Regions from separate parts of the Homo sapiens genome. Here region 1 is linked to region 2. Evidence: fine-mapped expression QTL. Tissue or cell type: whole blood. Region 2 holds a variant in brackets; the other region holds the start of a gene. All regions are shown on one strand. Distances are from middle to middle.

What was found. PIP is the estimated chance that this variant, and not a neighbour inherited with it, causes the effect.
Region 1: CTSK starts here. The variant in region 2 is fine-mapped to the expression of CTSK in whole blood (INTERVAL, PIP 0.96).

Annotation. Positions count from the first base shown.
Region 1 is chr1:150,803,337-150,811,336 of GRCh38, forward strand. CTSK (cathepsin K) reads right to left here and starts at 4,924. Exons shown (of 8, transcript NM_000396.4): 1 at 4,878-4,924; 2 at 3,350-3,470; 3 at 2,766-2,888; 4 at 2,525-2,680; 5 at 685-903. The coding sequence starts at 3,469. It overlaps ARNT (aryl hydrocarbon receptor nuclear translocator), which reads right to left. Exons shown (of 22, transcript NM_001668.4): 22 at 6,377-8,000.
Region 2 is chr1:150,560,402-150,568,662 of GRCh38, forward strand. ADAMTSL4 (ADAMTS like 4) reads left to right here. Exons shown (of 19, transcript NM_019032.6): 19 at 1-532. ADAMTSL4-AS1 (ADAMTSL4 antisense RNA 1) reads right to left here. Exons shown (of 4, transcript NR_104133.1): 3 at 2,701-2,816; 4 at 494-821. It also overlaps the pseudogene RN7SL473P. Among named protein-coding and RNA genes, the nearest start is that of ADAMTSL4-AS2, 6.8 kb to the left of the region's middle. RefSeq lists enhancers at 406-595, 1,386-1,565, 1,392-2,243, 2,244-3,097, 2,446-2,725 and 4 more. The variant G/C (reference allele first, on the strand shown) is at 4,339.

The DNA of each region.
Region 1 (8,000 bases), 240 kb after region 2:
AAAAAGAAAAAATGCACTAAGGACACGGCTTAGAACACAGTAGCCATCATTTTTATTCTCAAACTTGCTGTCCCTGTTTCAGAGGTTTCTGTTGTGAAGGCCCTACATTATATTGTCTATCAGACCCAGCCCTATGTGTATAAAAAACCCCTCAGGTTGCCTCCCTTTCAGATATGATTTCCTTCCTATGACTAGAGGATCATGCAGGAGGAACTGAGTTAATCCCTTATCTCTTATATGAAGCAACTTGTTTTTTCTCTCATTTTATAGATGTTAGCATGTAAACTTACATAATTTGCTGAAATGTTCTGAAAACTCACACTGAGATCATATAAAATAAAGCCACACAATTTGTGAAAATAGCATGGTGGGTTTGTGGGTTTGTTGTGGGAGTGAGGAATTGAGCAGAGGGTTATAGAACCCAGCTCGGAAGTCTATGGGGTAGGTAGCCTAGCCTCTGTTTTCTCTCCATGGCAGAGATGCAAATAGGAGCTATAGTAGCTTAAGCTCCCTAAATTCCCCCAGATTGTGGAAATCTTCTTGGCCTTCTGTGGGAAATTATTCCATCAAGAAAGCAGGATAGGATAACAGAAAACAGTATTTCTGGAATTGTTTCCAGTACAAAACATCATGCTGGGGAAGGAGGAGCCAACAGAGCTGTATAATTGTGTGGAGCAATCTCACCTGTCCCACATATGGGTAGGCATCTTCAGAGTCAATACCCCGGTTCTTCTGCACATATTGGAAGGCATTGGTCATGTAGCCCCCTCCACAGCCATCATTCTCAGACACACAATCCACTAGGTTCTGGGGACTCAGATTTAAGAGTTTGCCAGTTTTCTTCTTGAGTTGGCCCTCCAGGGCACCCACAGAGCTAAAAGCCCAACAGGAACCACACTGACCCTGAAAGGCATACAGAGAAACTATCAATCTTTGCTGTTTACATTTTCTATATCTTCTCTCTACCTGCCTGAAGAAATTCCATGTGTTCTAAAAATTTCAGCACAAATGTTGTCATTGTTGTGAGTCTTCCTCTTCCGCTTAATATCTGTTGCACTGTTCTACTGCTATTGATTTTTGCTACCATTTTTACTATTAGCTACAGTAAAGCAGAGCACAGTACCAGCTGTGGAGGCATTTGTCCTGGGTGCTAACCCTGACTTTGCCACCCAGTAGCTATGTGACCCCGGGTAAGTTACTAAATTTGCCTGTGTCTCAGTTTCTCTATGCATAAAATATTGTTATAAGGATTAAATATTTAACTCATGTAAAGAGTTAAGAAGTTCCTGACAAACAATAAAATCTCAAAAAGTATTAGCTATTATTGTTTGTGCAGCTAGATTGTAGATTTTTCTTTCTTTCCTGTTCTATTTTTTTAGATTGAGATTTCCTGAGGACACAGGTTGTGTCTTAGTCATCTTGAGTCTCTGCTGCCTAACACTGCATCTGGTAGGTTCTGGGGGTCAAAAAGTGTTTGTTAAATGAACGTTAAATCAATTGTTTATCTTGCTGATACAATCCTGTGTTGTTTGGGTTGTGAAAAAACTGACATTCTCATGCTAGTAAGAATGTAAGATTGCAAAAACTTTTTTGGGCTGGGCATGGTGGCTCATGTCTGTAATCCTAGCACTTTGGGAGGCCGAAGCGGGCAGATTGCTTGAGCCCAGGAATTTGAGACCAGCCTGGGTAGCATGGCAAAACTCTGTCTCTACAAAAAATTTTTTAAAATTAGCTGGGTGTGGTGGCATGTGCTTCTAATCCCAGCTACTAGGGAGGCTGAGGTTGGAGAATCACTTGAGCCTGAGACGTTGAGGCTGCAGTGAGCCATGATTGCGCCACTGGACTCCAGCCTGGGTGACAGAGACGCTGTCTCAAAAAAAAAAAAAAAATTTGGGGGGGGGGAAAGGATTATTTGTGACCTAACAATTCCAATTTTAGGACTTATTTTGCATAAATATTTGTACATGTGCACAAAAACATATGCACAAGGGTGCTTATTGCAACACTATTTGTAATAAAGAAAAACCAGGCCGCGATGGCTCATGACTCTAATCCCAGCACTTTGGGAGGCTGAGGCAGGTGGATCACCTGAGGTCAGTTCAAGACCAGCCTGGCCAACATGGTGAAAACGCATCTCTATAAAAATAGAAAAATTAGCCAGGCGTAGTGGCGCGTGCCTGTAATCTCAGCTACTCAGGAGGCTGAGGCAGGAGAATCGCTTGAACCCGGGAGGTGTAGGTTGCAGTGAGCCAAGATTGCACCACTGCACTCCATCCTGGGCGACAGAGTGAGACTCTATCTCAAAAAAAAAAAAAAAAAAAAAAAAAGGAAAAGAAAAAGAAAAACCAGAAACAACCCAAATGTACAGAAACAAATGAGGTTAAATAACAGAATGGGAATGGGGAGATGTACCTTAATTCCTTGCCCTCTTTTCCTGGTGCCCTTTCACCTCAAGAACAAAGCAGCAGAAAAAGGAAAAGGTCATGCCAGATTACATATGCACACCCAGAAGAAAGGAGAGTACCTGATTTTTGACAGGAGTAACATATCCTTTCTTTCGATAGTCGACAGAGTCTGGGGCTCTACCTTCCCATTCTGGGATATAAAGGGTGTCATTACTGCGGGAATGAGACAGGGGTACTTTGAGTCCAGTCATCTTCTGAACCACCTCTTCACTGGTCTAAGACAAAGAAGAAAGAGGCCAGGCATCAGCAGGGAACTAAAGCAAATGGTGCAGGTGGGACAGGAGCTGAAGCTATACTTGCCATGTCCCCCAGGTGGTTCATAGCCAGTTCATATGTATGGACACCAAGAGAAGCCTCAAGGTTATGGATGGAAATATACTTCAGGTTTTTTTCCCAAATTAAACGCCGAGAGATTTCATCCACCTAAACAAAGCATAGTCAGTACTTGTATAGACTGTCTACAGTTACATATGTAATATTGTGAAGGGTTTTAGGAGAATAAAGGAAACTCACAATCATAAAAGTTTACAGTTTAGTTGGGGAACTAACCATGGAATTAAGAGCCTGCAAGAAGAGATAATATGTAAACAAATACAACACAAAGCTCTGGAGAGACAGAAAAATTGCTTATAGATTAACAGCATTAATCTTAGAACTCTTCCCAAAAGAGAAATGTAACACACTTATAAAGCAAAGGAAGGATACAGTTTGACAGAGGATGATTTGAAGCATAGGAATGAAAACCGTATGTTAACATGAGTTAGGGAAGAGGGACTGATTTGCTTGGAATAAAGCATTTGGATTGAAGAAGGGAGTCTGGAAGCTAAGATGAGAGAGCTCAGGTCTCAGCCTTCCTGCCATGCCCCCTCCAGGACCCCAGGCACCTTGTTGTTATATTGCTTCCTGTGGGTCTTCTTCCATAGCTCCCAGTGGGTGTCCAGTATCTCCTCAGGGTACAGAGCAAAGCTCACCACAGGTAGCAGCAGAACCTTGAGCCCCCACATCCTGCAGAAGAATGTAGTTAGGGAAAACTCTTCCATTTGGCAGGGAAACAGAGGAAAACTAGGCTTTATGAGGAAGAGAAAGGTAGACGGAAAAAGGGTGATAAAACAATGATAGTCAGGAGGGGCCTGTGTTTAGATAGGATGCTGGTACATCTGGTTCCAAGGACTTTGATCTAGGGGGATTTAGCCATTTCTCTCTTTCTCTCTCTCTCTCTCTCTCGGGAGATTTAGGCAACACACACTCTCTCTGTTTCTCTCTCTGTCTCTCTCTCTCTCACACACACACACACACACACACACACACACACACACACACACACGTACACAACCAGAAATGGGGGATAGAAACTGGACAATCAGAATGGGCTCAGTGCGTTTCCTCCAGGGTCCCTAGCAGGCTTGGAGACAGACAAATAGCAAGGTGGTAGTGGGGTTCAGAATACACAAAGGAGAGATTTCCGTCTAAGTTTTGCCTCCTGATCATTTCTTCGAGGCGTTCTTCTCTTTCGTGCCTAAATTCTGGTACTTTCCCAGATCTTGTCAGAAGAGGACAAGGGAAAATAGGACAATGTTTCCTGTTTTCTGAGACATTGTATATCTCCTCATTCTCCTTATGCATTTCTTCTTCCTTTTTCTCTCCCTTCCCTCCTTAGGCAGGAAACTGCCCTAATCTTAACCAGATGCTGCGGGCAAGGTTTTTTATTTTTCCCCTAACAACAAAAACCCACTGTGGCTGCCGCAAAGGACAAGAAGCCTCAGATCCAAGGTTTGTTAGAAGAATGTTCAGACTGAAAAGCAATGTTCTATGATGATGAAATTCACAGCTTTTCATAAGTTTACTCTAGTTAGCTTCACTCATTTCTTGCATTGGCTTTCTTAATTACAAATCCTCCATTTTAAGAACAATTTGCAGCCTGCAGCATGACATATGGCTTACACAATTGCTTATAGTCCATTTACATGTAATTTTGCAAACTGGCAAAATGTCCAGTAGGACATTTAAAAACTAGAGTGTTAAGGGCTTTGAGATGTCTCAGTGAACAGGAAGCACTGAGCTACTACCTCCCCATACCACTCTCCTCCTCCTCACTAAGGAGTTAACCGTTTTGATCCTTGTTGGCCAAAGTAGAAAACACTGCAGAAAGGCCACTCTTGAAGGATGGGGAAATGATTCCCTATATACTTTGCTTTTACTAACAATCATGTATGTATATATATAAATCATACAAGGAATTCTACAGATTTCCAGGCAGATTTTATTTAGCCAGGGAATGACCTAAGAAGTGCATCTCTGTTTTCATCTGCAGAGGCTAAAAGTTTATTGTGATCCTCAAGTCACTACATCCCTAATACTCAGAGAATTGACAGGAATGAAAAGCTAAAAGATCTAGGAAGTTGCAAACGTTACCTGCTGATGGAAATCTGTTGTCTGGCTTCGTTTCGGCAGCAAAGTGTGGGCACACCATCAGGGGTGCTAGATTTATTCCATCGGGATTGCGGAAGTCAGCTCCAGTGATCGGCTGGAAAATTTGGGTAAGAGGAGGAGGCGGGGATAGAAATGCTGAGAGAAGGAAGGGTAGGGAGGAGGGAAGGAGGCAGTGGATTTGCAGTGTTTCTGTGTGTATGCAGCATGTGTGCCAGGGTAGGGAATTACTAGCTATTTAGTCTCACAAGACTGTCTTTGGTGGCAAATAACAAGACCTCAATATCTATTGACTCAAATAGGAGCTTACTTTCTCTTTTGGTGAGTAAAAGGAAGGACACAGCCCTAGTCTCTCCCATCCTTCTTCTTCAATATCTTTATTTTAATATTGGGGGATTATATCTTTTCCTACCCCTTTCCTGTTAGGATTTACCTCTCCAACATTGAAACCTATTTTCATATTTGTGTCTGACTCTCACCTCTGGGATGCGGTAATGAACATAAAAGGCTATAAAAGAATAATGTAATGGAAGCCATAGGCTCCAGAATTCTTTGTATTTTTATAAGCTTGTTGGTTGCAAGTTGTCATTACTTCCAGGCAGAATAGTTTTCCCAGCCTAATGTGGTTTTGCTGAAGGAGGATATGCCCAGAAAGTCCAGATGAAACTGTCTTTAAAAGTAACCAAAAACAGCAGTCCTGGTTATTTATGACAGCACTTGAATCAATGCCGTAAGTTCTGATGGACTCACATGTGACTCTGTTGCTAAAACTCTCAGGTGGTGGGATGCCCGATAAACATCATCTGTCTCAATTAAAATCCCCAATCTAGGACAAGTCACATGAGCTTCTCCAAATGCTTCCCCAACATCCAAGCATGTGACAGATCATAAGAATCTAGCTGATTCCTCAAACCACACCCCAAACTTCATTTTCTTCCATAAACAGATGTGGGGAAGGAGAAAAAAAGGCTTCTTGGAATAGAAAGGATAATAAATGGGATCTGTAATAGACTCAGTTTCTAGCTGGATTCCATGCATAAACCCTCAAAAATACAGGCTTATGCCTCTGGATTTTAAGAGCTGCTAACAGGCTAGGCGCAGTGGTTCACGCCTGTAATCCCAGGCCTTTGGGAGGCCAAAGCATGTGGATCACCTAAGGTCAGGAGTTCGAGACTAGCCTGGCCAACATATAGTGAAACCCCATCTCTACTAAAAAAAAAAAACACAAAAATTAGCTGGGCATGGTGGCACACACCTGTAGTGCCAGCTACTTGGGAAGCTGAGGCAGGAGAATTGCTTGAACCCAAGGGGCAGAGGTTGCAGTGAGCCAAGATCGTGCCACTGCACTCCAGCCTGGGTAACAGAGCGAGACTCCATCTCTCACACACACACACACACACACACACAAAAAAAAAAAAAAAAAAAAAAGTTGCTAATGAACCAACATAGTCTCCTAGAGGGAAACCAGGTCCAGACTTGAACAGTTTAAATTTCACTCATTTTAATCCAGAAAAGGACATACTGGGGGAAGGCATCCAGATGTGCCCTAGTGGTTTTCAAGTCCCGACTCTTCCCCTCTCTCCCAAGAACCCAGGCAACGCCCACCCCAAAACCCCCACCTCATGGTCAGAGCATTCCTGCTGATGTTACTCAGAATGTGTCAGGATCAGGAGGACAAGTGAGGGGGGAGGCGTGCAATGTGATCAGAACCCTATGATTTCTGATTCCTGAAATTAAAGACACAATGTGCCTTATGTTTGTATGTCTGGAGCTTAAACTATAGATTCCTCTGGTTGTGGGTGCCTGTTGTTTATGAACTGGAAAGGAATGATAAAGCCGCAATCAAGATCACACAACACAAGAAATTTTACAAAAGGAAAAAATATTTTGTTTGAAAATCTTTGCTACATGTCATTATTTTTGCCACTGTAAAGCTTAGCACAGATGCCAGCAATACAGAAATGGCCAACAAGAAAACAAAACAGTCAAAAATAAAACCCTGAAGGAAAAGCAAAAACAAAACCCCCAGAGCATCTTCTCGCTATCCTCCCCTTCCCCAAAAGCCCTATAATAACTGTACAATATTATAGTCCTGATCACATTTAAAAAGTCGATTATTAAAAAACAAGGGTTCCATTGGAAACTCAACTTTTTGGTTTCGTAAATTGTGATATAAATATATATGTATACTGTAAGTGTGCACATAGAATAAAAAAATAAACTGTCTCCTTTTTTACTCCACTACCTGGCACCAGACTGGAGACATAAGGAAGGGAAACTCAGCAAATGGACATTCCTTTGGCCTCTTCAAGGCCACCCTTGCTCCTCAGTCCCCTATGACTACATTTAATATATCTTCTCATTAATTCAGTCTTGCACTTTAGCTACTGGCCAAAGCCAATTTAAAAAAAAAAAAAAAAAAGCTGGTATCTACGACTGTTACCTGAGGAAGGTAAAGGGTGAGGGTAGTAACCTGTATCCGCATTTATATGGCTATTGTTAATTACCAAGTGACCCTGTTGAGATGGGTGTCCAGGCCCCATCTATCATACGGAATTATGATACTTGCACTCTAAAGCAAAACCCAATCTCAAGATTGGAGGGAGCAAAGAGGAAAAACCTCTTAGGGCCAGAGAGACTTAAATCTCAGTTGCTTGCTAAACTGGGTATTTTGAGTATGGGATGAAAGAGGCTACTTTGCAAGAGGGCTTCGTATTTGGTTTACACTCCAACAATGAGGATTTTCACTGGGACGGCTAATCCAAGAAGTTGAGTTTCCATGCAGAAATAACCTCTACAGAACACACATCATATGTGATTCTGACAGAAAAATGCAGCATTATCTTTATGGCCAAGTCTCGGGTTCCAGAAAGTGTTTATCTTGCCAGCCTATTTAGGTAATGTTTGCAGATCTTCCAGATAAGGTGAGAGCACCAAAAGCAGCAGTAACCCAGCTTTATCACTGAATGTGTTCGATAACAGACAATCGTATCAACAGCCGACTTTCTATATTTGCTTTACAGTTGTATATTGGCTGGGCATGGATGCAAGCGCAGCAAAGACGTTTATTTAAATATTCTTTGGCTGCAATACTAAGTGGAAAATACC
Region 2 (8,261 bases):
ATGCCTCAGGTGTGCTTTTGGGACTGCATGGATATGTGTGTGCTCAAACGTGTATCACTTTTCAAAAAGAGGTTACACAGACTGAGAAGGACAAGACCTGTTTCCTTGAGACTTTCCTAGGTGGAAAGGAAAGCAAGTCTGCAGTTCCTTGCTAATCTGAGCTACTTAGAGTGTGGTCTCCCCACCAACTCCAGTTTTGTGCCCTAAGCCTCATTTCTCATGTTCAGACCTCACATCTTCTAAGCCGCCCTGTGTCTCTGACCCCTTCTCATTTGCCTAGTATCTCTGCCCCTGCCTCCCTAATTAGCTAGGGCTGGGGTCAGCCACTGCCAATCCTGCCTTACTCAGGAAGGCAGGAGGAAAGAGACTGCCTCTCCAGAGCAAGGCCCAGCTGGGCAGAGGGTGAAAAAGAGAAATGTGAGCATCCGCTCCCCCACCACCCCGCCCAGCCCCTAGCCCCACTCCCTGCCTCCTGAAATGGTTCCCACCCAGAACTAATTTATTTTTTATTAAAGATGGTCATGACAAATGAGAAATGAGCTCTTCCTTGTCGGCTATGGACCCCTCAGCAGTGTGAAGGCAGAAGGTAGGGTGGGCAGGGGAACAGCATTAGAGCCCAGGAGAGTTTGGGTCAGAGAATCCCCGCCAGCCCCAGGCCCTGCAGGCTGGTCATGGGCCACTAGAGGTCACCAGTTCTCCCATTTGAGGTGTGGGGCGCTGGGTTCCAGAGCTGAAGGAAGGGCTGCGCGGCCGCGGTGCGCTTTTTGGTGGGTCGAGTCTCTCTGGGAAGTCTCCGGGTATCTGCGCCTTTCCGCTGGGGCCTGAGCGAAGGGCAGTTGGCTTGTCGAAGCTCTTTTTTCCTGTTCCCTTTCTCTAGCCCTGCCTTCTGTCTCCCTTTCTGCCGTACGCATATCCCTACGCTCTGGGGCTTCTTCTGGGGTGGGGAAAGGGAAGGGATTCCTGCCCCGAGCCCTTCCCCTGGAGGAGGAGGAGCCCGGCCCGGCTCCAGGGCCCTGGGCGGGGCTGAGGGAGGAGCGGGGCAGCACTGGATGTCCTGCCAAAGCCACATTCCTCAGAGATGGCTCAGCCTGGCCTCCTTCCTCCTCCTACTCGCTTCTCTCAAGGTAGAGAACTTGCTAGAGGCGGCCTGAGAGGGGCAGGCCTTTGCCATCACATCCTCTCCCAGACCCCTGCCATTCGGAGACTGAGGCCGAGTCTCTCCTGGAAGCCGGGCTGCCCAGGAGGGGCGGTGCCGCAGGAGCGCCCCCGCTCGCGACTCCACAAGCCCAGCTGAGCACGGCCGGGAATACGGGGCCTGCGGAAACAGTGAACTCAGTGGCTGCTGTTTTCTGAGCACCTGAACCCTGTGGGGGACGACAGAGTTGCCCGAGGCGGCAGGATGTCCCCACACTCGCGGTCCCCCGCACATCTTCCTGTTGCTTTGGGACTCGGGCTTTCTCTGGGTTGAAAGTGGCTGAGAAGGAAGAATTTGGACATCTTAAGAGGAGAGCGAGTGGGGAAGGAGGCAAAAGGGAATGGAGAAGGAAGATAAAACTGACGTCAGCCCAGGGCAGGGAGCGAGGAAAGGGGGCCACAAGGAAAGCCCAGTTCCAACGTCTCTGCTGAGCCTAAAGAGGCCTCAGCAGGGAATCACAGATGTGGGGGGCCAGGGAAACGGGATCCGAGCCCGCCCAGTAGGTATAGAAGGCCGAAGGCAGAGTCCTGAGACCCAGGGAGGGGTGGGGTGGAGGCTGGGGCCCTCCCAGCGATTCCTGGAAGCCCAGAGCTGGGCGGTGCCGGCTCAGCTGACTTCCCCGAAGCTCCCCTCCCTCTGCTCAGGGCTGTTGCTGGGCAGGTTTGGCGTTTGCCCTGAGCCTGAGAACCAATCGCAGGTGGAGGTGCGGTCGCAGCCCCTCGCAGGGCTCCCCGGCTTCAGCACCCCCTTTCTCTTTCTGCCCGCCCATGAGCTCCCTCTCGGCCTCCAGCCTCTGACCTCTCAGGAGGTGGGCTCTCCTCTGGGGGTCTGCTCCCTTTCCCCTCTTATTTTAGAGCTAGGACTCAGTGCAGCCCCTAAGGATTCCTTCCTCTGGTCACTGAGGTCATTATGGGGTCAATGCGGAAGTTCTCAGGAAAGGGAACCCGACCCCAAGCAATCCCTTTTCTTGGCCCCGTAGAGGGGAGTAGTGTGGCCAGACACCTGTTCGCTGACCTCTGAAACCCTCTGGGGGGACTTGGGAGAGCAGAAGCTGCAGCCTGAGGGCAGAGGAATGTGGGGAGGGCCCCTGGGTTTGGTGCACTAGTGGGAATTTAGGGAAGGACTCAGAGGAACTGGACCCCTGAGAATTGAGATGAGGGTGGGGTGGTGATAGGAACAAACTTGATATGCACAAGAGAGATCAAGCATGCAAAAGGCCTGCAAATTGTTGAGGATGCCTCCTTTCTGAGGGTGTGCTGGGGGAGGGGGTTGTGGTTTGAGTATCAGTGACACTAGGGGTGATCTGTGCTCTCACAAGTTCAGCTGGGTCAGGATTCCTCTCCCCTCCCCCTCCCAGCTTCCCCAGGGTAAATACCCACCCAATTTAAGTTGCAGCTTTTGGACTAAATTTAGCTCCTGGACTTCCCCAACCCCCAGGCCTCCCTGTAAGCAGGTGCTCACAGCTGCAGCATGGGTCTGGTGGAGAGTTTGAACCTTCTCCTCACCTCCACTCATCCAGATTCCACCTTTCTGGTAACTAGGAGTGAAGCAGAGCACAGGAATCCAGTGGCTGGCCCAGGGCATAAGTGTCTCAGCCTTAAGCCACCTTCTCCCAGGAAACCTGTAAGAGAAGAGCTCTGGTGGGAGACTCTAGATGGACATGGAGGGTGGTGGGGTGTAGAGAGAACAAGATGCCAGGAGAGCCTCCCTCCAGATTCTCTCCAGCCAGACCCTCTCTCATTCCTTGCTCTCCCCTTGTCCCCAGGTTTACAAATAGAGACTTCATGTTAGCATCTTCCCCACCAGAGTAAACTGACCCAGGAAGCCCTCTCCTCTCTTTGAACCATGGAGAATCATGCTACCGTAGAAATTATGGTTTGGGGAGGTGTGTGTTTCAAGTAGAGGTGGTTTGCCACAGGTAGGTGATGAAGAGCTGTCAGCTTTAAAGGGCAGAGACACCGTCTAAAGGAAGTAGAAAGCCTCAGGAAAGTACCTAAGTCTAAGTCTGTCAACAAGAGACAGAAAAAGTTTGGGTTAACCTCAAAGTAGCCAGCATAAACCCTGAATCTGACTTTTGGGCTTCCTGACCTAGGAGACTGGGAAAACTCAAGAGGGTGTTTCAGGGCTGAGTCTGAAGGAAGAAAGGATTTGAGGGAGGAATGTATAAGATTAGTCCAAAACAAGGTATGCACGAGATATGGCAGTCAGATGCCAGGGAGCCATCAGCTCTGCCAGCTGAAGGGGAGGTGCAGAGTTGGCTGGAAGCTGGCCAGAGCAGAGCATTTCTCCTGTGAGCACTGGAGAGCTGTGCTGAGAGGCCTGGGAAGAGCCCTGTGCTGGGGGAGGAAGGCTAGGTTGGGTCGGCATGTTTGTGTGCTGTACTCTTCTGAGCCTTACCTGAATCTCTTGAGATAGCTCCACTGAACTTTGAGTGAAGAGGAAAAGAAACTGGGGGAAAGAGGGTGGGATTATAAAAAAAGGAGCAGACTGTACCCCTGGGATCCCTAGGCTAAAAGGCCCTCCCCTTGATGAGACAGGCAGAGATCATCTCCCCTGGAACAAGGTCACCCTTCCTCTCTCCCATCGCTACATTCCTCTCCTCCTTACTGTTGACTATTGGTTGCCTGCCTCTTTCATCACAAAATGAGACTCCTCTTTAGCTTTAGTAGAGGGTTGGGCAAACTTTTTCTCTACAGGAGTAGATGATAAATATGTTAGGCTTTGCAGGACCTATCATCTCTGTTGCAGCTTCTCTACTGTAGCAGCACAAAGCAGCCATAGACAATAAGTAAACAAATGGGCGTAGCTGTGTTCCAATCAGACTTGTGACACTAAAGTTTTAAATTTTTCTTTTTTTTTTTTTGAGACAGGATCTTGCTTTGTTGCCCAGGGTAGAGTGCGGGGGTGGGGCGCAATCATAGCTCACTGCAGTTTTGACCTCCAGGGCTCTAGCCATCCTCCTGCCTCAGCCTCCCAAGTAGCTGGGACCACAGGTGCAGGTCACCACACCCAGCTAATTAAAAAATTTTTTTTTGTAGAGACAAGGTCTCACTGTGTTGCCCAGGCTGGTCCTGAACTACTAGGCTCAAGCAGTTCTCCCACCTCAGCCTCCCAAAGTGCTGGAATTACAGGCATGAGCCACT[G/C]TGCCCGGCCCATTTTTTTCAACCATTTAAAAATACCAAAATGATTCTTAGCTTGTGGGCCATACAAAAACAGGCAGCAGGGCAAATTTGGCAGGGAGGTGGTTTCTGACCCTGGGGATTTTTCCTAACTGGTGACTTCTGCTCTGCCTAGCCATAGAAAGTCCTGTTTGTGTCTCTTCCAGGCCTCAAAATACAGCTGTAGAACCTTTTAATTCAACATACTCTACTGATGCCTGGTTCTTAATTGCTTCTCCTAGGGAATTTAAGGACTTGAAAATGGTTAATAGAGTAAACCCTTAAGGGACAGTCCTGAAACTCCTTCTATTTGTGTAGTGCTTTAAGGTAAAAGCACAAAGCACGTGTATCAATAGTCTCTCTTTAAATCTTTGCGGTAATAAGATAGCTGACAGTATCGTTAAGTCCTGTTTATAGGGGAGAAAATTAAGGCTTCAGATCTAGTTTCTTCACTTTTTTTTTTTTTTTTAGATGGAGTTTTGCTCTTGTTGCCCAGGCTGGGGTGCAATGGTGTGATCTCGGCTCACTGCAACCTCCGCCTCCCGGGTTCAAGCAATTCTACTCACTCAGCCTCCCAAGTAGCTGGGACTACAGGCATGTGTCACCACGCCTGGCTAATGTTGTATTTTTAATAGAGACAGGGTTTCACCATGTTGGTCAGGGTGGTCTCGAACTCCTGACCTCAAGTGATCCACTCGCCTCGGCCTCCCGAAGTGTTGGCATTACAGGCACCACGCCTGGCCAAAAACACTTTTAAAAATTTATTTTTGGTTAGACACGGTGGCTCACGCCTGTAATCCCAGCACTTTAAGAGAGGCCAAGGCAGGGAGATCACCTAAGTCCAGGAGTTGAAGACCATCCTGGCCAACACAGTGAGACCCTGTTTCCATTTATGTAAAAATAAAAGAATTTTTAAAAATTATATGTATATTTTTAAGAGACAGGGTCTCACTATGTTGCCTAGGCTAGACTTGAACTCCTAAGCTCAAGCAATCCTCCCGCCTCAGCTTCTTGAATAGCTGGGCCTATGGGGTGCCTGGCTTCCTTCTTTTCTCTTTTTTTTTTTTTTTTTTTTGAGACAGGGTCTTGCTGTGTCATCAGGCTGAAATGCAGTGGCACAATCACAGCTCACTGCAGCCTCAACTTCCTAGGCTCAAGTGATCCTCCTGCCTCAGTCTCCCTAGTAGCTACGACTACTGGCCATGAGCCTTCTATTACTCAGTTTCATTCACACGGGGCATCTTGTTATCAAAATAATTTTGGCCTCAATGATCCAAACCTTGAATAGTTTTTTGTTTTGTTTTGTTTTGTTTTGTTTTGAGACAGAGTCTCGCTTGGTCACCCAGGCTGGAGTGCAGTGGTGCAATTTCGGATCACTGCAACCTCCTGGCTTCAAGTGATTCTCCTGCCTCAGCCTCCTGAGTAGCTGGGACTACAGGCACGCACCATCATGCCTGGCTAATTTTTGTATTTTTAATAGAGAAGGGGTTTCGCCATGTTGGCCAGGCTGGTCTTGAGCTCCTGGCCTCAAGTGATCTGCCTGCCTTGGCCTCCCAAAGTGCTGGGATTACAGGCATGAGCCACTGTGCCCAGCCCAAACCTTGAATAGTTTTAAGTGTTCTTGCTGTTTTTTTTCAAATGTCTTTCAGGACTTTTCAGCTAAAATTCTGTTTAAACTTTTTCAGACTTTCAAGAAATTAGAAATGCTTTCAAATTCATGATAGTTTTGTGTCATTTATACCCAATCCAGACTTATTTAGACCAAACAGCCTTTTTTTCCTACCAGTGTTTTCCAATTTTTATCTTAAGAGGCAGGGTCTTGCTATGTTGCCCATGCTGGAGGGCGGTGGCTATTCACAGGTGCAATTCTACTACTGATGAGCACAGGAGTTTTGACCAGCTCTATTTCCAACGTAGGCAGGTTCACCCCTCCTTAGGCAACCTGGTGGTCCCCCACTCCCAAGAAGTCACCATATTGATGCGGAACTTAGCATGAACACCAGATCAACATAGCGCACTATAGCCCTGAACTCCAGGGCTCAAGTGATTCTTCTGCCTTAGCCTCCAGAATATCTGGGACTACAAGCGCGTGCAACTGCGCCTGGCCAATTTTCCTGGGTCCAGGAAATGACAGTATTCCTGGTCTTTGTTTAAGGTACACTGTCTTGCAAACATAGGCTTATGTATAATGGTAAGCCACAAGCATTTACTAAGTTTTTTTTTGAGACATAGTCTCACTGGCCCAGGCTGGAGTGCAGTGGCACGATCTAGGATCACTGCAACCTCTGCATCCCAGGTTCAAGCAATTCTCATGCCTCAGCCTCCTAAGTAGCTGGGACCACAGGTGCACACCACCACCCCCATTTTTAGTAGAGAGAGTTTTGCCATGTTGGTCAGGCTGGTCTCAAACTCCTGACCTCAGGTGATCCACCCGCCTTGGCCTCTCAAAGTGCTGGGATTACAGGCATGAGCCACCGCGACTGGTCAAATTTTTCTTTCATACAGTAGCACTGATACATCTTTCATGGTTCATGATGGGGAAAGGAAGATACAGCGACTTCCATCCTGTTTCATACCTGACCCCAACTACCCAGCTTTGAAGTGGGGCAAGGGGCAAGGAAGCAGGTAGCCCAGCACTCCTCCCCGCCATCACCAGGCTCCTCTGCAGAGCTGTTGTTCCTTAAAGCTGACAACAAGCCACCTCATTTCAAAACACACACACACAACCTCATTTTGACACAAAGTTGTTTCCCTCTTTCTGTTTCTCTGCTTTGCCTCATGAGGGATTTCTGAGAAATGAAAAAAAGTCACCTCCCACAGCCGCAGCCTGCAGTTTTGTTTTTTGGTTTTGTTTTTACAGATGAAGAAGAGGGGGGTGGAGGAAAGGAGTATACCGCTTAAGCATCTAGTATTAATCCAAAACTCTGCAAAGTAAGAGAAATGCTCTTCCCATAGCCCTTCACCTGAGGTGTGTGCCCCACTTTCCTTAGATTTGGGCTCTCATGCAAAAGGAAATAAACAAGGTATCCTCCCCTCAGGAAAGTTCAGTAACAAAGCAGTGAAACCGAACAGCTGCTCCCTTGCAGCAGGCCAGCTGTCTCCCCTCCCCCCATTTCCACCAAGGGCCGGAGACGGTGGGAACTGCTCCAGGCAACCTAAAGGATGGCGTTGTGAGCTGAGAAAGGCAGGCCTGATAGATCTGGGCATAGGAGCTTCAGGAATAAAATGCATGTGAATGCGGTGTTTCCCAGGGAGAATTAACCGCATTCTCGCCTTCAAATCTGAATACCTGAGAGTCATAACCAGCCCAGTAGGGTAGACTATGAAATGTATAGCAAAATTTTCAAAACCAGCTCCTCCTACCAGACAAGAAAATTAACATTTTTTAGGGCACAGAACTGAAAGCATTTTTACTGAAATCTAATCCAGGATGAAACCTAACAGTTAAACATTCTTTTCCTTCTCTGCTTCTTTGGCTCTCTATCCCAGCACACCTTGTCCCAGGCTAACTTGAGTAAACATACACATGTGACCACATGAGGGCGGGAAGAACACCAAGTGGGGGTGGTGAAATTCTGAATGGAATGCAGCCCCAGCTAGTTAGGGGGCCCCGGGCTGAGACCTCTGGCACTGGCAGTAGACTTATACAGGCAAAGAAGCCAAAACAATGAGCTCATGGGCAAGAATGCAGCCTGTGGGGAAGTCTGGGCAGCTAGAGCAAACTGGTTTTTTGAATCAGGATGGGAATAGCAATAGTTGAGTCTCCCACGGGAACAGGATCAGGGAGAGTGGAAGCCACCATTCAGTATCTTAGGGTTCCAGTTAAATAACTTTTGGAAGCTCTTATTAAAATTCTGTTCTGCAGACAGCATAGTGCTCTTAGGCAAAACCTTGGTTCCTTTCCCTGA